3 separate regions of the Homo sapiens genome follow, and regions 2 and 3 are each linked to region 1. Evidence: fine-mapped expression QTL. A gene starts in region 1. Each other region holds a variant in brackets. All regions are shown on one strand. Distances are between the middles of the regions.

What was found. PIP is the estimated chance that this variant, and not a neighbour inherited with it, causes the effect.
Region 2: its variant is fine-mapped to the expression of SH2D4A in left ventricle (GTEx, PIP above 0.99).
Region 3: its variant is fine-mapped to the expression of SH2D4A in fibroblasts (GTEx, PIP above 0.99). The same link has a PIP of 0.9 or more in sun-exposed skin.

The regions. Positions count from the first base shown.
Region 1 is chr8:19,308,784-19,316,966 of GRCh38, forward strand. It overlaps SH2D4A (SH2 domain containing 4A), which reads left to right and starts at 4,910. Exons shown (of 10, transcript NM_022071.4): 1 at 4,910-5,040. LOC105379306 (a long non-coding RNA gene) reads left to right here. Exons shown (of 4, transcript XR_949550.3): 4 at 2,950-3,041.
Region 2 is chr8:19,225,149-19,233,331 of GRCh38, forward strand. LOC100128993 (a long non-coding RNA gene) reads right to left here. Exons shown (of 5, transcript NR_038919.1): 3 at 2,020-2,083. Among named protein-coding and RNA genes, the nearest start is that of SH2D4A, 84 kb to the right of the region's middle. The variant T/G (reference allele first, on the strand shown) is at 3,946.
Region 3 is chr8:19,286,411-19,294,593 of GRCh38, forward strand. No RefSeq gene overlaps it. Among named protein-coding and RNA genes, the nearest start is that of SH2D4A, 23 kb to the right of the region's middle. The variant C/T (reference allele first, on the strand shown) is at 4,915.

The sequences.
Region 1 (8,183 bases):
AAGAGGCCATAAGCTGGCTCTGATTCAAACATACACTTAGAGGAAGAGGCAAAGTGTCTTACTTTACCAAAGGGCAGAATGCACTTCAACTTCCAGTTAGAGAAATCTGGAGGACACTTGGAGCCATGCATGGGGTGTGTGTGGGAGTGGGCGAGCCTTTGGTGCCAAAGAGGGAAATGCCTTCCTCAGCTAAAGGGCCAGAGGGAATGTCGGGGGTTTCAAAACCAGGAAGAAGTGGAAGGAAGGAAAGAAGTAAAACTTGTGTATGTTGCGCATCCCATAATAAGCCAGACACTGTCATCTTATGCATCTCATTTCATTCCCATCCTATTAAATGACAGTCTGGGTTTGGTGGAAAGTCTATCTCAGACTGAGTTTAGGAACTCACTCAAAAACCAGAATGAAGAAGATGATTATCTAGCCTTATATATGTTTCAGTAAAGTCCAGGAAGTGCCATTACTGCTTTTTCAACATTTCTCATAGCCAATTAACTTTATTTCCATATATTTTAGTGGCTCTCAACCTTGGCCACACATTAGTATCCCCTTGGATGCTTTGAAAAAATGCTGATATCTGCGCTCCATCTCATCCCAATCAAATAACTCCTTGGAGGAGTAGACAAAGAGGCAAATGTTACAAAGAAAATCTCCCTGGGTTATTTTAATATGTACTTGAGAACTGCTGTACTCATTTGCAGAAAATTCCTTATAAAACTAAAAGGGATTTGTGCACTTTTTGCAAAGATTGCCTGTAAGAGAGAAGCTAGGAAATGGAAACGCATTTCTGAATCTGGTCCAAAAAAGAGATGAGATTTGATTTTATGAGTCTAGTAGACCTTATCAAAACTGCCTGGGAAGATCCAAGGAACACCAGAATATTAGAAAAAGTTTGCTTCTGCTCCTTTCTCAGAGCTTTGACCCATAAAAAAGCACTGGTTACCATAGGCCACTGCAGATGTCCCATATCGTTGGGATAGCGACTGTCCAATTCCACCCATAAGTTTGAGGTGAGCAGTTCTCTGAGACACGGGCTGCTTGTCACTGTATTACAGAAATATAAGAAACCACCGGGCATGGTGGCTTACACCTGTAATCCCAGCACTTTGGGAGGCTGAGGCATGCAGATCACGAGGTCAGGAGATTGAGACCAGCCTGACCAACATGGAGAAATCCTGCCTCTGCTAAAAATACAAAAAATTAGCCAGGCGTGGTGGCACACACCTGTAGTCTCAGCTACTCTGGAGGCTAAGGCAGGAGAATCACTTGAACCCGGTAGGTGGAGGTTGCAGTGAGCCAAGATCGTGCCACCACACTCCAGCCTGGAGACAGAGCGAGACTCCATCTAAAACATATATATACACACATACATACATACACACACATACATATATACACATACACATACACACACACACACACACATATATATATGTATATATATATATACACACACACATATGAGAGACCAGAAATGTCTAATTAGCAACTCAGAGTGTGGATTTTAGAGAAAGAACTCCATAAAGGTAACTCTTGGAAAAACATTAAATATTACAGTAATGTAATTGATTCAAAGATGAATGTAAAGACCAATAATTTATCTTGGTGTTTATGAAGATGAAGAAATAAAGGCCCATACAGAACCATACACAAATGAAAATAGTTCAAAATCAAATCTAACTGCTCACAGAGAGCTGAAAACACAGCAGACCCTAAATATATTTTTAATGATTGATGAACTGATTAAGATTTATTTTGAGATTTGATCAGTTTTTAGTAAAGTTTAAATGTTTTTGTATTTTTCTTTCATTTGTACGTTACATTCACTGTGGTACAAGTGTATACCTGCTCTAACAGTTAAAAAGTGGTTGAGGTTTCTGATGCTGATCATAAAATATGACAGGAAAAATACTCTATTTTATAAAGAAAACATATGAAGGCAATTTTCATTGTCTGTAGAACTGAAATAAGGATTAATCTTTATCTCAGAAAAAGTGCAAAGTGGCTTATCCTGTCTTTCTGGCAACAATAGGGCTGGCAGTGTTGCACAACTCCAGGGGGCGCCTTACACATAGTGATCTCTGTGCTTGTCCCCTGCCCACCCACAGTTGTACAAGGGCCATGCTATGCCATTTTACTTGACAGCCCTGGGCAGCAGGGCTCCTAAGCAACAGTCCAAAAGGAAGGCCAAGGAACACATCCATTAAAATGTAGGCTATTTGTTTCATGGTATTCATTACCACGAATAAATGACAAATTAAAAATATTAGTAACCAATAAATAGATGTTTAGCTTTCTCTTTAAGTTCTGGCAGTGAACGCTGCAGCAGAGCATTCCTGAACACATGTTGGTGCTACCATGTTCCATGTCTGTGACTCGTCAGTGGCCAGCCCCTGTCAGCAGTCTTCCCCACATTCGTCCCTATAACACATCCTAGATCATGGAGGGGGGAAATGTTTTCCTCTGAGAGTACTGGCCCAAAGGGAGGGAAAAAGTAACTGAAGGCCCCACAAGTAATAGGCCACCTGATTTTTTTTTAGAGCATTATAAAACATTCTTGGCCAGGCGCAGTGGCTCACGCATGTAACCCAGCACTTTGGGGGGCCAAGGTAGGCAGATCACCTGAGGTAAGGAGTTTGAGACCAGCCTGGCCAACATGGTCAAACTTAGTCTCTACTAAAAAACAAACAAACAAAAAAAAAAAACAAAAACAAAATACAAAGTTAGCCAGTTGTGGTGACAGGTGCCTATAATCCTAGCTACTTGGGAGGCTGAGGCAGGAGAATCACTTGAACTCAGGAGGCCGAGGTTGCAGTGAACCAAGATTGCATCACTGCACTCCAAGCCTGGGCAAAAAGAGTGAAACTCCATCTCAAAAAAAAAAAAAAAAAAAAAAATTCGAATTGTCTACTTTTGAAATTAAGGGAAAAACATCTACCTTTTCTCTTCCAGACCATGCCAATTAAAAGAGGAAATTCCAGGAGTCAGCAGAAAGGAAACAAAAAGAGAAGGTGATAGAGGAGAGGGGAGACCAAGTGAAGAGGATGGAGAAGAAACTATAAAAATAAGAGAAGAAGAAGAGTTCATGGCAAATATAGGAAAGAGCCACGAGACAAGAAGGATGGAAATGGGCAGATGAGAGAAAAGGGAAGAGAGTCTGGGTTCTGAGTTGTTTGCATTATTTGTGTACAGCGTGCGTTCCTTTGGGCTGTCAATATTATTTCAAGATAGAAGCACCAAGGTGTTTCCTTACCTAATCTCTGAAGTGGCAGACCATCATCACTTCTGCCGGGTTCTATTGGTCAAGCATACCAACCTTTACAAAGTGGCAGGGAGCTATGCAAGGATGTGAATACCAGGAGGATAGGATCCCTGGGAATGACTTGGAAGGTAGGTGGCATGGTGGGCAGAACCCACAGCCTAGGGTGAGATGGCAGGAATGTGGAATTCCAGTACCTTAATGTGATATGAACTGATCTGAGTGAATGTGTTTGAACACTCACCACATGCCAAGAGCTCTTCTAATCTCTTTGCATGTAGCATCTCATTTAACCCTCTTGACAACTTACCGAGGCAGACACTCTTTATCTAGAGGAGGAAAGTGAGGTACAGAGGTTAGTAGCACAGTGATAAAGCTGTTATAAGGAAGGACTTGCCAGGACCTGGAGAGAGACTGGGTGTGAGGAAGGTAGGCTGTCACAGTGTCCTGTGGGATTTTTCCTAACTGATAAACCACCCTGTATGGTTCAACTGATGCATCCATGCAGGGCTAGGATTCATTCTGACCTCGTCATAGCAGCTTTCCAGGGGCCAATCCCACTCCAGCCTAAAGCACCCCATATGCTATCATTTAAACTGCAGTAGGAACTAAGCCTTACACCAGAAATTCCTCCCTGATGGGATTCCTGGAATTGTTCCTAAATAGCTGGGTCTTATTTCCTGACAATGCCGCCTGCCCCGAGGCTTGATGTAACTCTGCACAGCTTCTGCAGTTTGGAGAGGCAGGGAAATGCCATTTTGTGTTTGAATCCAGCAGGTCAGGCTCCTAAAGAGGTCAGGTAGTCCGTGGAGAGGACTACTGGTGTTTACTGTTTATTACATCTCTCCCAATACACAAAATCTGGGGTTCACCAAAGCAGGCGGTTTTCTTCCACATGCTCCTCTAGGATGGAAAATGCCCTCCAGTGGAAATGCCTTTCCACTGTGCTTCTGCTCAATTTTCCTCCAAGATTTCCTCTAACTGTGGACTGCCAGCTCCTCCCTGACGTCTTCAGGCACCAAGCCAACCTGTTCTTGTTGCAATCCTCAAGACTCCTTTCAGCATCTTAACTTTTCCCCCAGTTTTCTTTCATTTTCTCCACCTGTCTGTGTTGACTGCGGTCTCCTTCCTTCCAGCCTTTTCCTTCCTTCATCTTGTCCTACAAAGCCACACGTGTACCGACAAGTGCCAAAGAGTTTGATCATTTACTTAATGTCAACAAAAGAAAAAAAAAAAAAGCTCCAGAGTCGCCTTGGCCTGCAGCACCCAAGCAGAGTGAACAAGTGGGGCCTGCGCACCCTCCTACCCTACACCTAGCAAGGAACCCCGAGCTCTGAAACGTGGAAAGGCCCAGATCTGCAGATTTAATCTAAGTCCTGCAGTCCCCAAGAGATCACAGACTGCAGATCCCTGTCTCATGAACTAAGAGAGGAGAGGACAAGCCTACCCCGGACTACCGCAGCTCGGGGACAGCGCGCGGGCCAGGCGGCCCGAGATGCGCAGGCCACGCAGCCTCGCCGACGAGTGGCCCTGGAGAGCCTCCAGGCGCCCGGGTGGGGCCGCGATTGCGCCCCGCCAGTCACCCCGGCATGTGGGCGCGGCGGGGCGGCGCGGGCGGGACGGCTACAAGAGCTGTTTTGCGTCCGGGCCGGAGTATTTGCTCAGCCCGCCTGCGCCGCTTGGGACGCCTCTGCCTTTCCCTCCCTCCCTTCCCCGACGGCTTCTGGCGGCCAAGTGGATGTGGCGGGTGATCGAGCCACCCTGCCCAGGGGCGCCCAGCACTGGTAGGTGCTGGGGGTGGGGCGAGGCTTTGGGGAGAGTGTGCGTGGGGTGGGAGTAGGGGGAAGGGAATTTCCTCGGAGGTTGCATGGGTGCATGGGAGGCGCAGGGGCCAGAGCGGGCGGGCGGAAGCCTCACCCCCGCCTCCACCCCTTCGCGGCGCCCGGGGCGGGCTCAGGTGCGGGGTTGGGCGGCGAGAGCGGCCGCGGCGGGTGTCCGGTGTCCGGTGTCCGGTGTCCGGTGTCTGGAGCCGCTGGCTAGGTGAGCGGCGGTCCCCGGGGCCTGGGGGCTTGCAGGGGGTGGCGGGGGAACTTCGAGGGAGAGGGTCTGCCGGGGCTGAGGACCTTCGGGGAAGTTCTGGAATCCGGCAGGGACACGCGGCGCGTGCTTCCACCCGCGGGGAGTGCAGGCCCCGGGAGGGTCCGGGCTGGCCTAGAGTTTCTAGACTCCTAGCAGGAGCACGTCCTCGACTTGCGCATGGAAATCTTCCAGGAGGGAAGTCCCGGGAAACGGTGGCAGCTGGCGCAGCACCCCCGCAGCACGTTCCCCGCGCACCGGCACCCAGGGGCGCCCCCACGTGGGGTCTGGGAGCGCGCGGAGGCCAGTGCAGCGCCGCCTCCCTCGGGCTGCAGCGGCGGGGCTGGCCCAGACCCAGACCGGGTGCCCAGTGCGCTCAGCCAAGCGGCGCCCCTGCCCGCTCCTGGACTCGGGGGTCACGCGGGCACCGGAAGGAGCTACAGTTTGTAGGTTTTCTGAGTTGTCTCTCCCTTCCCAGGGAGCTTAGAGAAGCAGCAAGCGTGGCACCTCCCCCTTTCAAACAGATGCTCCTCATCGCTCCAAAGGCTTTCGTTTGATTGCTGGTTTAATAGAAACAACGACTTGGGTACGATTATTTTAAAATAGTGAATAAATAAGTGGAAAGCATACAGGGGCATAGATTTGGCATATGAGTGGAATTCTCTATGTATACTAAATCTGTGTGTACAGTAATCTCAAATTTCTGAAGAATAGTATATATTTACAAACTGCTGTCATCTCTGGTAATTTGTTTCATCCTCAAAAACAGCCCTTTTGCTGGTAGATGAATAAGATAAAGTTTCAATAAGAAAACAAAGTTGGACCACAGAGCTGGCTGTTTTAAAAGAATTAGAATTCAAACTGTATTGTTAATGTTATAGTTACACTGTCCATACCACAATACTTTTATTTATTTTTTATTTTATTAGGTCGGTGCAAAAGTAATTGCGGTTTTTACGTAAAAAAAACCGCAGTTACTTTTTTTTTGGCCATGTAAAACACAATAACTTTTGCACCGACCTAATGTTTTTAATTTTTGAGACAGGGTCTCCTTCTGTCACCCAGGCTGTGGTGCAGTGGTGCGATCTCGGCTCACTGTAGCCTCAAACTCTCCAACTCAAGAGATCCCCCCACCTCAACCTCCCAAGTAGGTGGGACTATAGGTGCGGGCCACCACGCCTGGCTAATTTTTATACTTTATGTAGAGACGGAGTTTTGCCATGTTGCCCAAGCAGGTCTTGAACTCCTGAGCTCCAGCAATCCACCCATGTCCACCTCCCAAAGTGTTGGGATTACATGTAGAACCACTGTGCCCGCCTACTATTTTTATGATTTAGCCTGTATCTAAGGCCTTTTAAAATTGTATTTTGTTTAGGTCTCAGAGTTATTCAAAAGACAGTTGTATTGTAGAACAGTGTGAAGGTGTGAGAATCAGGCCAAATCTATGGTATCATGGAAAACAACGGATTCTCTGACCTTTTAGCAATTGGTGTTCAGAATAAATAGCAGGTGTGGGCTTGTTGCTTATCATTTCTCTCTTTTAAGAAAGGGGCTGTGTTAGCTGAGCTATTCCTTTGTTGGATCTTGAATAACCGGAGATTTGCTGCCCTTGATATAGTATGGGAAAGTCCTCTGAGTTTGAATCAGTATCAGCAATGATTACTTCCTTGTCAGGGAGTGAAAGTAGGAAAGCCCTAGTTAGTTAATTTCCTGATTTCTATTTCTTCTACCCTGGCTCCACCAGGCTCCTTCGCTTCACAGTAGATTATGTCAGATACCCACACATTAGAAGTCACAGACTGAACCAGTCCTCGTTTCACAGATGAGGAAACTGAGTCCCAAGGAGGTGAGGTGACAGCACAGAGTCACACCGCTCACTAGAGGCGGAGCTGGGAGTTGAGGCTGGAGTGCCTCTGGGTGTCTTGGGTGTACTGTGCTGAGCTTGAGTTGGGGTCTGAGAAAGCCTTGGAGCGGGGGTTAGGGGTTGGGAATTAGAGGGTGAGGGGGACAGGTGATTTACACCAGTACCATTCAGCAGTGGCAGAATGGCCACATCGTCAACGGCCTGACCACAGATAGTTGTCGGCTGGGTCCCCCAAGTATTCTTGGAGGCACAAGGAAGCCAGTGTCTTTCCTTCAAGATGAACTAGTTAATTTTAATGTTAGAAATCCACGTTTGCTATAAAAAGTAAAACAAAACAACATAAAAATGGAAATAATGTGAGAATTTCATCACAGAGGTGCCATGAACCTCCTTGCACATGTGAGAGGCTGTGCTTTTTGTGCTGTTCTTAGTGTTTGTTTGGAAGGGGAAATTGTAGAGACGAAGTGGATGACTAAGTGCAAGGGGAAATGGGACTAAGTGTCTGGTGAATACGTGGGTAAGCAATGTCCACACCTGGGTCAGTGTGACAGTCGGTTCCTTGCTGTCCTTCCTGGCTGGGGTGTGTGCACCTGGCCTCCCCTAAGCTTAGCTACAGTTGACCAGGAGGAGGCTTCTGCCCTGTGTCAAGCACCATCAGTTCAGCGTTTCTGTTGCTGCAGGAATTTGCTGGCTTCCATTCTGAAATTTCATACATGGCACCACATCCTGCTGTTCTGATTCTGGGCACACAAATAAACTCACAAAAAGGCCTCTGTGTTGTGTATTACAGTGAAGCTGAGTTAGAGCTGGACTGCCCGGCTCTGCCGCTTACCAGCTGCTGACCTGTGCTCTATCTTCCTAATCTGTGAGATGGGCATAGTGATGGGCTGGACTCCAAGGGTTATTGTGAAGATTAAGTGAGTTAACACATGTAGAGTGCTTAATTAAGATGGTGCCTGGTACAAGAAGTGTTAGCTGTGTTATCAG
Region 2 (8,183 bases), 84 kb before region 1:
GTCTTCCCTGCTATGATTGTAATGCTCCAGGGTTCTGATACCCCACTTGAGTCTTCATCTCAACCTTGTTGGATCCAACTCAGATTCACCCCAGAAAACCTCAGTTCCTCCACAGCCAAGACACTCCCTAGCCCAGCTTGGGCAAGGCTAACCCAGTTACCGCATTCTTAAATCTCCCTGGCTGACCTGTATTTGTTTACAAAGGGAAGGAAGTCTCTCTTTCTCCAAACACAGACACCCTTTACAAAGCACAAGCAGGGAGATTCTGTTCATGAATATCCTGAGAGACAGGGTGTAAGCCCTGCAGCAGAAGCAGCCCTGGTCTCAAAGGCAGGCTTAGTTCAAAGACTTTTCTCTCCTTCTCTTGAGCCAGTGCTTTTCCTTCCAACAGCCTGCTGATGCAAGGAGTGGTTCCTCAGCTAGCAAGTCTGCATAATATTGCCGGAAGTTCACAGGCTTTCTCAGACCCATCCAAAGATGGATCCTTTAAAATCCCAGAGACATCTTACAGTTTCTCTGATTGGGCCAGAATTTCTTCATGGGGATTTCATGTTCTCCTTTTTGGAGAGAAGATGAGCACCCAAAAGAGGGTGGAGAGGCTCCATTCCTTTCCCCATCTCAGGAAAATGAAATTCCAAGGGCAGAGATCAGGGGGGAAATCACATCTTGATCGTTGGCAAAACGGAAACTATTAGGCTTAGCATATCCTGTTTTGAGTAAGGAAAAAAATAAAATTCTCTATTCCACACCCCACCTACCCCTCCCCCCCAAAAAAATCCTATCCTCATGACTGAAGGAGTTATTCTGAGAAGCTTATCTTTTCATATCTACAAAAGTACATCAAATATTCCCCAGACAGTCCTACCACCTCATCACCTCCAACCTTGCCAGCTCACACTCATTTTTAAAATCTCACTCCTAGCTTATATCCTGCCCATTAACAGAATTGTGATTATGGAATTAGGCTGAAACAGTGTCTACATTCCACACAATCTCTAACACACTGATACTTGGTCATTGTTATTAATGACATTAATTGTAACATTTATTCTCCTTAAGAATGTATAGCATGACATGAGGTTGCATGCTTTCTAATCTTTTTTTTCTAATTATTTATAAACGTTCACATTCTGTGTGGTCATCAGTTGTCTTCAAAGGAAACACTGACATTTTCTGTTAGCAATTGCTCTGCATGGAATTGGTTATCTAATATGTCTGGTTAACAAGCCTCTCTTTGACATTTAATAAGCTGCAATGATTTCACATTCAGGTAGTTCCCTGTTTACTTGAGGGCAAAGGGCTGTATAGAAGCTAAGTTAGGGGATTTGATTACAAAAACAAAGATTTTTTTTATGGATAAGAGGAAAGTAAAAGTTCTTTTTTTCTAACTCTGTCTTTCGAAGTTTCATTGTCCAGCCTTTCTTTGGAAACACATGGCATCTTAATACTTTTACCGGTCACAGTTTTCTTTGAAATGCATTTGTCATCAACTCAATGCTTTCGCCATGACTCCATCTCTGTAACCATGAGATATTAAATGAAGGGCAAAGAGCAAAGTTTCAATTCCATTTTATTAAAACAGAACTAGATCTTCTGAATCAAGATAAACTTGAGTTTTCTATTTAAAAAAAAAATTATCCCTCAGTGTATGTTCATGAAGACTGTGTATCCAACCAGCCAATATTTCAGAATATATTGAAAGAAAAGCATAATTCACAGGTCATTAAGCTGCCTAAATCCTCAAATACTGTGCCACTGGTCATTTGATTTTATGCTTGAGTAGGTTTAGATGGTGAAACAAATATTTTCCTGATTCTCCTGCCTCCAAAGGAAAACATGCCCCAAAGCCGCCTAGCAAAATACCCCAAATTACCTCTGCTATTATGCAAGAATTCCTATCTTTGCAGTTATGGATAAAACAAAGACGGAATTTTGAAGGACCCAAACACTTTCTCCTAAAATATATTCTTGCTAGTATTCCGCTTCAGATGAAAGTTCAAATCCTAAGCAGTGACTTACCAGGCTTGCATCTCTCAGCTCCTTGAAGAGGTTCTGCTTTGGTTTTGAGGGGTTATGTCTGAAACTTAAAATATAAAATGCTTTCAGTTAAGCTGCCTGGCATGATCGACTTTGTTTATTCCAGTCATTCCATTCCAGTGAAAATTTCAATCCCTTCTCCCTGTAAAATCTTCAAATTATTTTCTTCCTCATCCTCCTTCTCTCCTAGACTCCAAGCCATGGATGAAAAAACACACGATCTTGGCTCACTTGCTAAGGAAAAGGTGTAAAATGTACATGTAATCAAGCAAATGAGGAATTGACAGTTGAAAAATGATTTAAAATTCTTCAAATAGATATAGCTAACCCTGTTAGCTCTCTGCTTATATATATTTGGTAAGAGAATAAGCTTTTTCAGCACAGGAATGATATAAGGGCAGGAAGGGACACTTCTGCAAGTCAAACAGAGAGAGAGAAGAGGAGAGGATTCGAAAAGGTGCCAGAGGGTAATTGGACTCTGGCTCTGACAGTTGATCCAAAGCACGCTACAGGAAGCACACTGGTTAGCTAAAGTTAGAGAAACAGTGGCCTCTGATGGAGCCCCAGATGTCACACCAATTACACATGGTACAGAAACTTGCAGTTTATTTTGACAGTCATTCAAGTTAAAACATGAGATGAGAAGTTTGCAACAGAAAAGCCATCTTGGGCCTAATTATTTCATTTATATAAACAAGGTCAAAAGGTCTCATTTTATTATTATCTTCTGTCCTTCCTTCCCAGCACTGTTTATTTTCCACCTCCTATTTTAAAGGTGCAAACATATTCTAACAAGGTTCATCTTTAAAAATTTTGTATCAAAATGGAAACTTTTGTTTTCTGGCTCCCTCTATGTTGATATAAGCAAACAATCTTACAGTGTTTATTTTGATAATCAGTATTGAGCAAATATCTTACAACTGGGAAAAATCCTCCTGCTCTGTAGAGAGCAGTTTTGCCCACTGGTCACATACAATATAGGCTAGAATTACAGACACTGGGTAGTGAGAAAGTCAAGTTCTTCCTCTAAGCACTATGTTCATTTATTTTCTTTTTTTTTCTTTTTCTTTTTTTTCTTATTTTAAGTTCTAGGGTACATGTGCACAACATGCAGGTTTGTTACAGAGATATACATGTCCCATGTTGGTGTGCTGCACCTGTTAACTCGTCATTTACATTAGGTATATCTCCTAACGCTATCCCTCCCAGCTCCCCTGACTTTTGGGTATACCCACATGTGCTAATTTCCTCGGCTGTACTCATATTTGTAAAAATGGCAGAAAAGAAAATAAACGGTATTTCTCTGGGTATACCCAAAGACTAATGACAAGCTGATCCTCAAAAAAACCAGACAGAAAGACTGAGCCCTTGATACAGAATTTTTCTTGGCCCTTTGTCGGACTTGCAGCAGGGGGAGCCTCATCTACTTGGCCCACGTGCTCAGCCCCTGGTGGGAGGGAGCATGTGAGTAAGCAAGTGCAGGGTCCAGTGGGCTGCTTTGAGTGCTGACACAGGAGCAAACTCCATGCAGGGCCTGCGGCCAGACCAGGCATGTCACCCTGAGGGGAATGCAGCAGCTCCCAGGCAGGGGTGCCCGTGATTCCAAAGCCCCAGAGGAGGTGTTAGTTTGCTAATTAGCTCTTTTAGTTCTGCCATCCGCAGCTCAATAGACTGCGGTGTATTAGCAAGCTCAGTTGGCCCCTTGACTTGTTCTGGCCCACGGCTCTGGGACTGTCTTAGCTCTGCCACTGCTTCTGTTGTGTGGGGTGGCTGCCCTCCACCAGCAAGGGCAAAGGGCAAGTGTTACAGCCCTACTGGGTACCCCTGCTTGGTGGGTCCTGAGCTCTTGTCCAGCGTCCAAGAAGAATGAGGTCATGCTGACTATTGAAAGGTGATGAGAGCAGAGAA[T/G]TTTAATGAGTCACAAATCAGCTCTCAGCAGAGAGGGGAACTGGAGAGGGTTGGGAAGGTCAGGTTGTCTTTGCCAAAGTCAGGTCATCTCTTCTTGATGTGGCTGAATCTGGGGCTAGGGGTGTGCATGCTGATTGGTGTGTGAGTATGGAAAAAAAAGGTTAAAACAAAGGCACCAGTAAAAGGTGGGCACAGCGTAAAAACAATTAGGGAAGGGTAGGTATATGTAAAATCGTTGAAGTTTGGGGCTCACTCAAAGGAAAGCATGCCAAATGGAAGACAGTTTCTCAATCCGGTCTGTGGATTTGGCTTGTAGCTTGGCCTTCAGGCTTTAAGTCATTTTTGACTTGAAGGTGGGGTTTCACTGGGGACCTGACCACCCCTGTCTACCTAGGATTTCTCTGCTTTCTGCCTCTATCACCCTGATTCTTTCCAGATTTGGTATTTATTGGGTTTGCAGAGACCTCTAGTGTGCTTCATCTAGTGATAAGGTGGGGTAACACCCAGAACAGACAGTGATGGTGAACTTGGGCAAGGCCAGTGCAAATTGCAGGGAGGAAAAAAAAACATCTGGGGGGAGTTTCCTGAACTTTGAATAGCAAATATTTGGTGGAATAACAACAATAACACACAAGTAAAAGTAAAATAAAATCAAAGATAATTAAAGTGGAAGGCTCTATTTACCAGAAACTTACCTGTTAAAGATAGTTTCCATGGTTTTCATTTTAAGTAATAGTGAAAAATCGTGAAAAATACATTTAGCAAGAAACTGAGTCACGGGCAGTTTTGCTATTCCATATTCCCTCAAATGAGCAGCCCTGTTGTCTTATATTATCTGCTCTCTAAGCACAAAACTGAATTACCATGAATCAATATCAAGATATTAAGATAATTATTCTGTTGAGTTTCTATTATTATTCTCCTCAAGCATACATTTGTGGTCTCATTTCCTAGACATATTTTATGTGGTTTTATATAACTTCATGAAAAATTCTCAACACATGGATGTTTCATAATGTCACTGGATGGTGGATTTTCCTTTATGCCTCAATACACATTCATTGAAAACATTGTGCAGTCCTAATGGAAAACCAAGAGGAATCCTAGCAAAGGTCTCCTTGAAGTTAGCAAACCTAATGAAATATTTTGTGCAATAAAACATTGTTTTCATTTGTGACATAAATTCATTCTTATCTACTTCCTGAGTTGATTTTGTATTTATTGGAGCTATAAACAGCTCCCAAAACTCAGCCTACTTCACTGACAAGGACTCTGATTTCCGTTCAGTTAAAGCAGCTATCTCAGCTTTGTTACTGCAGTATTTGATCCTCTTCTCTTTTCTGCTCTCTCTCTTCTATGAAGGTCACCTCTCTCTCTTAGCCATGTGTCAGAATCTATTCCACTTCTCTCATATTTTCTAAGTCAGATAGAGAAGGATGCTACCTCTCTATTCATTCTGATATTTTATTTTGAAACAGTTATAAGGGACACATCTAAAGATTTTAAGTAGTAGTAGATAATCTCATGCCTTTTTTCTTTTTTCCTAAATTTTTTTCATGATAAAAGTAATAAAGGCTTATTGTACAAAATTTGGAAATTCCAGAAATGTACAAAGTATAAAAATGGTAGTGCAGATCAGACACATTACCATCAGCCAGAGATAATCTCTCTCAACCAATTCTTTTTTTCCTATTCACATATTTATTTTTAGTAATATTTGGATAGCATTGTGTCCTGTTCCACCTACCATTATATTATGAGCATTTATGTCCCCATATTCTTCTTTTTTTTTTTTTTTTTGAGACGGAGTCTCGCTCTGTCACCCAGGCTGGAGTGCAGTGGCGTGATCTCCGCTCACTGCAAACTCCGCCTCCCGGGTTCATGCCATTCTCCTGCCTCAGCCTCCCAAAGTGCTGGGACTACAGGCGCCTGCCACCATGCCCAGCTAATTTTTTGTATTTTTAGTAGAGATAGCGTTTCACCGTGTTAGCCAAGATGGTCTCAATCTCCTGACCTCATGATCCGCCTGCCTCAGCCTCCCAAAGTGCTGGGATTACAGGCATGTGCCACCGCAACCGGTGGTCCCCATATTCTTAAATGTGATTTTAATTTCTACATAATACTTATAATTTGTTTCATTCTTCCCCCATTATAGAGCATTTAGATATTTTCCAGTTACTATTTTAAATAATGTTATTGAGAGCATCTTTCTTGCCATCTTTAAGTTATCCTTCTTCATTAAGAGAAATAGATTATTCCAATAATTCTATGCACATAATTTCAGTGACCTAGGGGAGATGAGGGGCCAAGAGAGACTCTATGACTTGCCTGAGGCCATATAACTACTTATTGGAAATGCGGAATTCTTTGATATTTTCAGTTTCTTTATCTATCATGATCGAACCCTAGGCTTTTTAATTGCCTTTTTTTAAACCAGTTTCATTCCATTTTATAACAACTCCTGCCACTGCATTCCCATCCTTTCCTTGCAGCCCCACCCAAAAGCCACCTGCCTGGTCCTTAGGGCTTCCCTCTTCCCATTTGCCCGGAAAACCACTATCAGGTGATTCCGATGATCCTCCTTATATCACTATCAGGCTCAAAAACTTCATTGACTTCTTAGTGAAACCCTGCATGAAATATAAACAACTTGCCTGACTCTCAAAGCTCCACTTTTCCCTTCAATCTTTCCTCATCCACTCCCACTTGTCTGCTGTTCCCTATCACATTCCCAGCTTCCTGCCTTCTTCTTATATTTCTTTCTTTTTCTTTTCTTTCTTTCTTTCTTTTTTTTTTTTTTTGAGATAAAGTCTCACTCTGTTGCCCAGGCTGGAGTGCAGTGGTACAGTCTTGGCTCACTGGCACAGTCTTAGCTCACTGCAACCTCCACCTCCCGGGTTCAAGCGATCGTCCTGCCTCAGCCTCCCAAGGAGCTGGGATTACAGGTGCATGCCACCACTCCCAGCTAATTTTTGTATTTTTAGTAGAGACGGGGTTTCAGCATGTTGGCCATGCTGGTCTTGAATTCCTGACCTCAAGAGATCTGCCCGCCTTGGCCTCCCAAAGTGCTGGAATTACAGGTGTGAGCCACTGCACCCAGCCTTCTCCTTATATTTCTTAACCAGTCAGAATACTCCTTTGTTCCTCCTAATCTCTTTAACTTCATGCAGTCCTCTAAGGACCAGTGTGAGTCTCATATATTCCATGAAATAGAATGAACTTCCTATTGTATCTGAAATTGTTCCATTTGAGTTGTAGTCTGAAATGAACCACTTTCACTGGAAAATGTGGGGGCAAATAATTAACTCTGCTGAGCCTATTTCTGCATATGCAAAATAAGAATAATTTCACTAATACCTGCCCTTTCAACCTCCCAAGATCCTAGGAAGGATTGGATATGTGTTATAAAGTTTTGGTGAGCTGTTAACTGGTATACAAATGAGGGAAAATATTCTCCACTGTGTCCACTCATAGCTGTCACTTTAAACCATTTCAGTATCCAAGTCTGTACAACATATAACACAACACTGAGTTATGTTTCATCCCATCAAATTCTCTCATTGTCTTATGGATGCTAATCATTTTTCCTCAGCTTGGTTGTGAAGTCTCTCAATGTAATACAGTATCTAATATTACCTCTCTAACCTGGGCATTGCTGTAATGACTACCAGTCTAATCTAGATAAGTCCTAGCTGGTAAGGTCTGGATGGGGTCATAATGGGATTTAGACATAAGTGGATGAGTCAGTGAGGCATCGGTGTTCCAGAATTTTTCTGGAGAAAAAAAGTGTTACACTTCAGGAGTCCAGGAAGACTGGGATTAAGGTTAGCATACACCTTGTGAAGTCTATGTACTCTCAATTTAGATTTTGTTTCTTGGATATATTTACTGAATTCTTATAGCAACCCATATTAGGCATGCTTATTGTTGGAAAGCAGAAGCAAGAATGTCCTTCAGACACCTAACCCAGCCTTTGGTTACCCCAGTCAGAAGGGTCAGGCTACCCAATCATGATATGTTGTTAAACATGGCCTCCTGATGATCTGCTTATAGATTATTCATTTAATCTGAAATTTACTTCTCAGTTTTAATTTTCTAGTTTCTAGAGTCCTAAATAATATTTTTTCCTAACAGGTCTACCCTGAAAAAAGACAGTTCTAAGGTAAAGATTAGGACTAATGACAAGAGATAGAGATAAGGCTAGAGTTAGGGTTAGCACTACCTTTAGGTTCAGAGTT
Region 3 (8,183 bases), 22 kb before region 1:
TCTCTGGGTCTAGCTGTGCAGTGGGACTGCCACACTTCAGGCTGGTGCTAGGGGATGTCCACAAAAGATCCAGTGATGTGACCTCTCTTTTAGCCTTCCAGCAGCAGGTACCAGCAACAACTCTGATGGTGTTGGAATGGGAATGATGTAGACTCTGTGAGATTTCCTTCCTTATAAATCACCTTAGTATGTTGTTCTTCTCAAATGCCAGGTGTACTGGTAACGTACTGGTCATGTAGACAGAGTGAAGCCTTCCTGGTTAGGCAGGGTGATGCAGGCTTGGGTAATAGCTAAGGTTGTGCAAAAGTGTACTCGTTCCTAGGCACTGTGTTACTGTACCTGCAAATGTTGTAATGGCATGTATTGGTTGGCCTCCAGCTAGGAGGTGGTGCGTGCTTGCAAAAGAATGCCAGTTGCAGTGGTACTGGTGGGATTTGTGCTTGCCTTATGTTATCCAGGGGAGGTATTCTGGTGTCTCAGACAATGGGTGGCACCATGGAGCTCTCAAAATTACCTGTCCTTTATACTAAGCTACCAGGGTAGGTAGAGGGACAAAATCAGGTGGCGCTGGGCCAGGCAAGGCTGTATCCTACTTTCCCATGTACAGGTGCAAGCAGCGGCCCCAGTGGAGATTGGAGGGCGGTTCCCTGGCTACTGGGGTAATAATCCAGGTGGACCAAAGCTGCCTCTGCTGCACAGAAGAATCTGCACAAGGAGTGGGGAGGAGCAGGCAGCAGTAAGCCCTATCCAGCTCCCATGCGCTTGGCAAGGCAGGTCTCACACATGCAGTGTTCCACCAGCAGCAGCTAGCTGGGTTGGAGTTAGCCTGCACTCTGAACCCAGAACTGCCCCAGGCTATAAACCTTCCCTATCCAGACAGAAACTGAGGTTTTCCAACTACACTTCTCCTGGTCTGCCTGTGAAACAGCACAATCAGCTCCTGCACGTGTGGCTAAAGCACACACACTGCTTGTGCCTCAGTTCTGGACAAGGGGGTTCATCACCACTCAAAATTATATCACAAATCTCAGTTGGGAGCTTCTCTCAACCTGTGACCACCACCTGAGTTAGCTGGCTGATTTCTGCAAGGTCCCCTATTAGGTAGGATCATGAATGGCTTCCTTCTGTCCCTGCTGGAGTCTGGGAATGCACAAAAAGCACATCCCAATGCTGCTCCTTCTCATACACTCCCTACCGCTTACAAAATCAGCACTGGGCAGGGTTAAGGCCTCACCCCATGGCCTGGATTGCCAGGCCCCACAGTAGGAGTGAATATCATGGAGGCAGCGTCTTCCACCTCATGCTCTAGGGACTCACAGTTTTCTGCCTGGCTCATTCATGGTGTAGGCTGCCGCCTTCTGCTTCTTTCAAAGGGTCTGTAGTTTCTTTCCGTTGTTTTGTTAAGTTCTTGTGTTGCTTCTTTGAAAAAAGTTCACAGCATAAATCCCTACACTCTATTTTGTCTTTCCAAGGGGAGAGGCAGGCTAACAGTGTCTCCAATCCGCCATCTTGGAAACAAAATGTTTTCCCCTTATTTTTTAATTAGTTCAGAACTTGAGGGGGAAGAAAAAGAGTGGCACTATTTTGGGGGGACTCTTCAAGAACTCCAATTTAAGACTTTGGCAAATATTTTCTGATGATGAAACTACTATCTGATAGAGCAGAGGGAGAGAGCTGTCTAAAGAATCATGTAGCCCCAAGAGGAGGCTCTGGAAAGGAAGTGTATACAGGAAATGCAGGAAAAAGAAAATAAGGCAAGACTTATGATCGTCATGTATCTGAATTAATCATTGTTCTGATTCCTACTTTACTGATTAGGTATCAATAAAGCTGCACAAGGGAAAGCAGTTTGTTTTGTTTCATTGCTGAATTTTTAGCGCTTAGAGTTCTGCCTGGCACATAGTAGTTGGTCAATGAACACTTTTTAAATAAACAAATAAAATGCAATTGCCCGTGGTGGAATTATAGATTTCTTTTACAGGTGACTACACTGAAGCCAAGGGAACTTGATTACCCAAACAGAAACTGCTAATTCATGGCAGAATCCAGGCTTCCTGGACGCTATTAAAATGCTTTTTCCATTATAACATGCTGCTCCCCTGGGTAGCCTCCCACCTACAAGCCCTTGCCAAATTATCTTACCTCTAATCTAATTAACTTTAAAGCTCTTTATTCTCTGACTTTAATGTTTTGGGCTACTCCAGCAAAGTGGTTGCTCTCCCCAAAAAAATGACTCTCTGAGTCTCTGTGCATTTTCTTCCCTCTACCTGGAATAGACAGCGACTCATCAAATCTTTAAGTTTCCATTCATAAACCTTCTTGCTTCCAAGAACCTCTTCCTGATCAACCTTATTCATCTTTAGTCATACGTTAAGGCATTTATTTTACCTACTTGTAAATATTTTCATAACTACATTATTTTTACTTAAACTTTAGGTAGAACTAAAAACATATTGGAGTGGGCACCCAGATCTCATCTATTTGCCTTTCTCTGGAAATTGTCACCTAGCTTCATTCCTACCCAAAACACAGGGTGAGCCAATAGCTATGGCTGTACTTGAAGATCCAATCTTCCTGGTCATAGTGATGAATCCAGGTGTGAACAGCTGACCCACCCTGGGCTGAGCAGACTGCCTGTTCTAGAAATTGAAAATTCCAAGTTGAGAGACGCAGAGGGAAAGAAGGGGATTGGAGGGAGGGAAGGGGATTGGAGGGAGAGAAGGGAATGGGAGGGAGGGAAGGGGATTGGAGGGAGAGAAGGGAATGGGAGGGAGGGAAGGGGATTGGAGCGGGGAAGGGGATTGGAGGGAGGGAAGGGGATTGGAGGCAGGGAAGGGGATTGTAGCTGAATCCTGTGCACAGCAAGATGCTTGAAAGAAAACCACAAATTCAGCTTTCTGGAGCTTTCTGGTCTCTGTTGCTTCTGTGGCCTAGTTTTCCACCCTTCTTTGGATTCTACATGTTCCAGCATCTTTCCAGTACATTCTTGCTTTTGCAATGGCCTGCTAGAGTTAGTTTCTGTGAGTTGCTATAACACTGAGAAATAATCCACTCTTCTCATTTTGAAGCTAAGAAAACTGAGGCCTGGAGATGACTTGCCCAGAGTAGCTTTCTTTAGGTTTCCTTGGGAATATCTGTCCTTTCTCTCCCGCTAGCTTGTCATGCACCTCTTCTTTGTCTCTCTCTATGCCTGTATCTTCACCACCCTGCTTGCACACTGGTGAGAATGTGCTTCTCACCCCCGAGCCTGGATTCCCTAATAGCGTTGTATGTTTCATCTCATGCCTCTCTTCACCTGTTTTGAGAGAGTCATTGTATAAAACATTCATTGCCTTTTTGGCCTTTTTGCCCTTGTCTTTCCACAGCCGTCTATCATGGGTCATTCCTCAAGGTCATGTGTATGCTAGCTTCCAAGTTGAAGACCAGTTATGTGAAAGGCACTGTTTAGGAACATGATACTGGCTGGACACAGTGGCTTATGCCTGAATCACAGCACTTTGGGAGGCCGAGGTGGGTGGATTGCTTGAGCCCAGGAGTTCAAGACCAGCCTGGGCAACACAACCAGACTCTGTCTCAACAACAACAACAACAACATAAAAAAATACAAAAATTAGCCGGGCATGGTGGCACATGCCTGTGGTCCCAACTATTTGGGAGGCTGAGGTGGGAGGATCACTTGAGCCCCAGAGGCAGAGGTTGCAGTGAGCCATGATAGCACCATTGCACTCCAGCCTGGGCGACAGAGGAAGACTCTGTCTCTGAAAGCAAACAACAACAACAAAAAAACCAACTAATACTAAAAGATAAAACTGTTCATCATCTGCATTAATATTGCCAGACATCACACCAAAATCCCCAAAATTAAAACCCTTGATTTGGACTCAGTAACAATAGAAGGTGATCGCTGATGCTTCTGGCTCAAAGATTTAGATTTTATTTGTGGGTCTGCCTCTTTGTACGGCTGTGGACAGGACATGGATTGGGTATAGACAGCCCTCTTGTGAAGGCCACTCTCAAAGGCTTCTAGGTCCGCCGAGGTTGGGAAGCGAGGGTGCAACATGGATGGGGATAGAAATGGCCTTCTTTGTAATAATAATGTAAAAAATACAAACATAAAGGCTGAGTACTTTATTTTAAATTCTACTGTGGGAAAGACAAGTATATTTGTTTATGGAATTGAATGTCCTTCAGAAACTCATGTTATTCTTTTTTTAATGCCCTATAAAAATAACTATTCCATTATACTCATGAAGATGTGTCATTTAATTTTAACTACAACATAAATAAAAAGGAGGCTGCACTCGCTTCTCGCTTGGGGATTAAATAGTTTTTTCCAAAATAAATTCTGAAATGTTGTTCATCATTTAAAACTTAATTTTTAGGCCGGGCACGGTGGCTCAGACCTGTAATCCCAGCACCTTGAAAGGCCGAGGCAGGTGGATCACCTGAGGTCAGGAGTTCGAGACCAGCCTGGCCAACATGGTGAAACCCTGTCTCTACTAAAAATACAAAAATTATCCGGACATGGTGGTACACGCCTGTAGTCCCAGCTACTCTGGAGGCTGAGGCAGGAGAATATCTTGAGCCCAGGAGGCAGAGTTTGCAGTGAGCCGAGATCATGTCACTGCATTCAAGCCTGGGCGACAGAGTGAGACCCTGTCTCAAAAAAAAAAAAATTAATTTTTAGTACCTAATGATAATTTAGTATCTGTATATTTTCTATTTGTTTTGGCAACAGTATTTATTAGGTTTTACACTTATTGTGTGCTTAGCTGTCTTGATATGTCCTTAAGGAATTTAAAATCTGGATGTACAGTCAAGATTTACACATGTGAAACAATCAAACGACCTAAGACAGCATAGATTTACATCCATGAAGGTCAAGAAGCAGGAAATGATTACTATTAATAAATA[C/T]GCTTACGATTTTCAGAGAATGGTTTCCCTTTCAAAAGCATTATACTGATTGACCATTCAACAATCCAAATAATGAAGCATACTTGACGGAGGCAAAACATTTTGCAATGACTAAAAATTGTTATGCTTCATTCACTACGTCTCTAAGTATTTAAATCAAAGAATACTTTTCAAGCTGTGTTTCATAACCACTCAAACAATACGACTATCCAAGGAAGTTATAAAAGTAAAGAGTCGCCTTGAAAAATTATTTCCCCATGCGATGTCAGTTGAAAAGCTGGTTAGACAGCTTCACTTTCAGACAGGCATGCTGGCTTGGAAACAGTAAGTGCTAGCCAGATGCTCACGCCAACAGTGACTCAGAGATATGCTGTTGCTTCATGGCAGGGAGGCCAGCGTTGCAGATAGATTAGATTCTGTGGATGATGCTGTGGATGCCGAGCATACTTTAGGTTTGCAACTTTGCTGACACAAATTCAAGAGGAATGTGAAATGTGACAAAGAAGACTCCTAATCCATTTTTCATTCCAGGAAGGCATAATGCATAAAGGTTAAGGACACAAACATGCGAATCTAACAACCTGGACTGATATCCAAGCGCTTCCACTCTTAATCTTTGGCAAGTAACTTCTCTGCCTTCTTTTCCTCATCTGTAACACAGATATAACAAAAGGTTTACTTTGACGGTTAAATGAATTAAAACACGTAAGATACTCAGTGTCCAGCACATAGTAAATGTTCAATTAGTGTAAGCTTTTCTTGTTTCATGGAAGGCTACTTGAATTGTTTCTTCTCCCCCCACCCCCCACCCACCGCCTGTGCCAAGTGGAGACTCGTTCTGTTGCCCAGGCTGGAGTGCAGTGGTGAGATCTCAGCTCACTGCCACCTCTGCCTCCTAGGCTCAAGCAATTCTCCTGCTTCCGCCTCCCGAGTAGCTGGAACTACAGGTGTGCACCACCATGCCCGGCTAATTTTTATACTTTTGGTAGAGACAGGGTTTCATCATATTGTCCAGGCTGGTCTCAAATTCCTGACCTCAGGTAATCTGCCCTCCTCGGCCTCCCAAAGCGCTGGGATTACAGGTGTGAGCCGCCGCACCCGGCCTTGAATAGTTTCTTAAAGGATACACCAATTCACATAAAGCAGTGGTCTCTGAACTCTTTTCCTCAATCCCATATCCAGTTGTACGAAGCAGCTGGAGAGAATAAAAGGGGTGAGGAATGAGAAAGTCCACATGGATATATGCTGCGCATAAGTTACATGTCACTTACACCTGCATGGAAGCCAACATTGTGTTGTCTATCTATGCCATGGGATCTAGAAACACACACAGCTCAAGGCAGATGGAGGTAATAAACTGTGGATGGAAGTAATAACCTGTGATCATTATGTCCATTTTCTTTCTTTTTTTTTTTTTTTTTTTGAGACGGAGTCTCGCTTTGTCGCCCGGGTTGGAATGCAGTGGCACAATCTCAGCTCACTGCAAGCTCTGCCTCCTGGGTTCATGCCATTTTCCTGCCTCAGCCTCCCGAGTAGCTGGGACTACAGGTGCCCGCCACCATGTCCAGATCATTTTTTTTTTTTTTGTATTTTTAGTAGAGACGGGGTTTCACCATGTTAGCCAGAATGATCTCAATCTCCTGACCTCATGATCCACCCACCTCGGCCTCCCAAAGTGCGGAGATTACAGTTATGAGCCACCGCACCTGGCCCATTCTGTCCATTTTCTTAATTTCAAAGTATACAGTAGTCAGAGGACAAAATTAGAGCCAGGCAAAGACAGAAGAGGGAGCAGACTCCCAGGGAGATAAGAGAAGAGGATACTTCATTCGTGTTTTGAGTGTTTAAATCCATCCTGTCATGTGTGGGGTTTCAGGTAACCACATTGGGGAGAGAAGGTGATGGGCAGGACGCTTAAAGTCTGAGTGATGTTTTTGCCCTAATAATCCTGGTCTTCTGCAAATAGGAGCCTGGCAGAAACCTATTAAAATCTTTGCTTGATCAATCGATTTTTAGTCCCTTACCCACTGGACTAAAACCTTGACGGCAGAAGCTTCTCTATCTTGCTTTTTCACATATTCCCCTACCAACCACTGTGCTTAGAACATACTAGCACTTGACATGTATTTTTTATTTTTACTGTTGAATTTGATCTTAGAAACTTGTCATTGAAAAAATTCAAACATATCAGCTCCATATGGGTGCCCATGCATTTGTAACACTTATTTTGAGAGTGCTGGACAACAAGCTGGGAATGTAGGAAGGATTTGGGAAGGCTGCACAGGTGTGGGAATCCCATCACCGTGTCTAATCTCCAAAGTCTCCTCTGCATCAGCTCTCACTAATCACCACTAGCCGATGGGCAGTGGATCAGACCTCATTTGACCTTCGGTAGACGGCAAAGCAGTTTTGAAATTCATCTAGATGCTGCATCACGAGAAACACAGGAGGGCATTTATATCCTTCCAGATCCTTGATTTGTGTGTGTATGTGTGTGTGTTTGTGTGTTTTCTGAGACAGAGTCTTGCTCTGTCACTCATGCTGGAGTGCAGTGGTGCAATCATAACTCACTGCAGCCTTAAACTCCTGGGCTCATGTGATCCTCCCTCGTCAGTTTCCCAAGCAGCTGGGACTACAGGCACGATCCACCTCACCTGGTTATTAAGAAAAATTTTTGTAGGGATGGGGTCTCACTACATTGCCCAGGCTAGATAGAACCTTGTTCCTTTGAGGCTCCAGCAAACTGCCATCACTGTGACACATCAATGCTACATATAACTGGCCTGCCTGTGGATTTCAAATTAATCTTGAAGAATGAAAATAAAAAGTTAAGCGATTATAGGAAAATGCCTCTAGTCCAACTGACGAACCAGAATTTTTAGTCTTGAGTCATTTCTCACTTAAACCTCAAACCATTAGGTGCCTAATTTGTGAGAGAAGAAAAGGCATAGATTGATGACTGGATAAACCTTGTCAGGAGCTGGAAAAACCAGATTGTTGGCACTATTAAAATCTTTCTCATTTATTGCTCTTTTTCATTTCTCATTTGTTCTTTATTATAAACATAAATATTTGCTGAAATTTAGAAACGTATAGAATATGCTTTTAATCACACTTAACTCAGATTCTCAGGCTAATTTGTTGTCTGATTCTCATGATTCATGGAAGGGTCAAATTTTGGACTTTTAGATTCCTTTCCCTGCAAGTTTTTCATTGTGTAGATAAGGACATTGGGGCCGGAGAGAGGATTGACTGAGCCATGGTCCCCT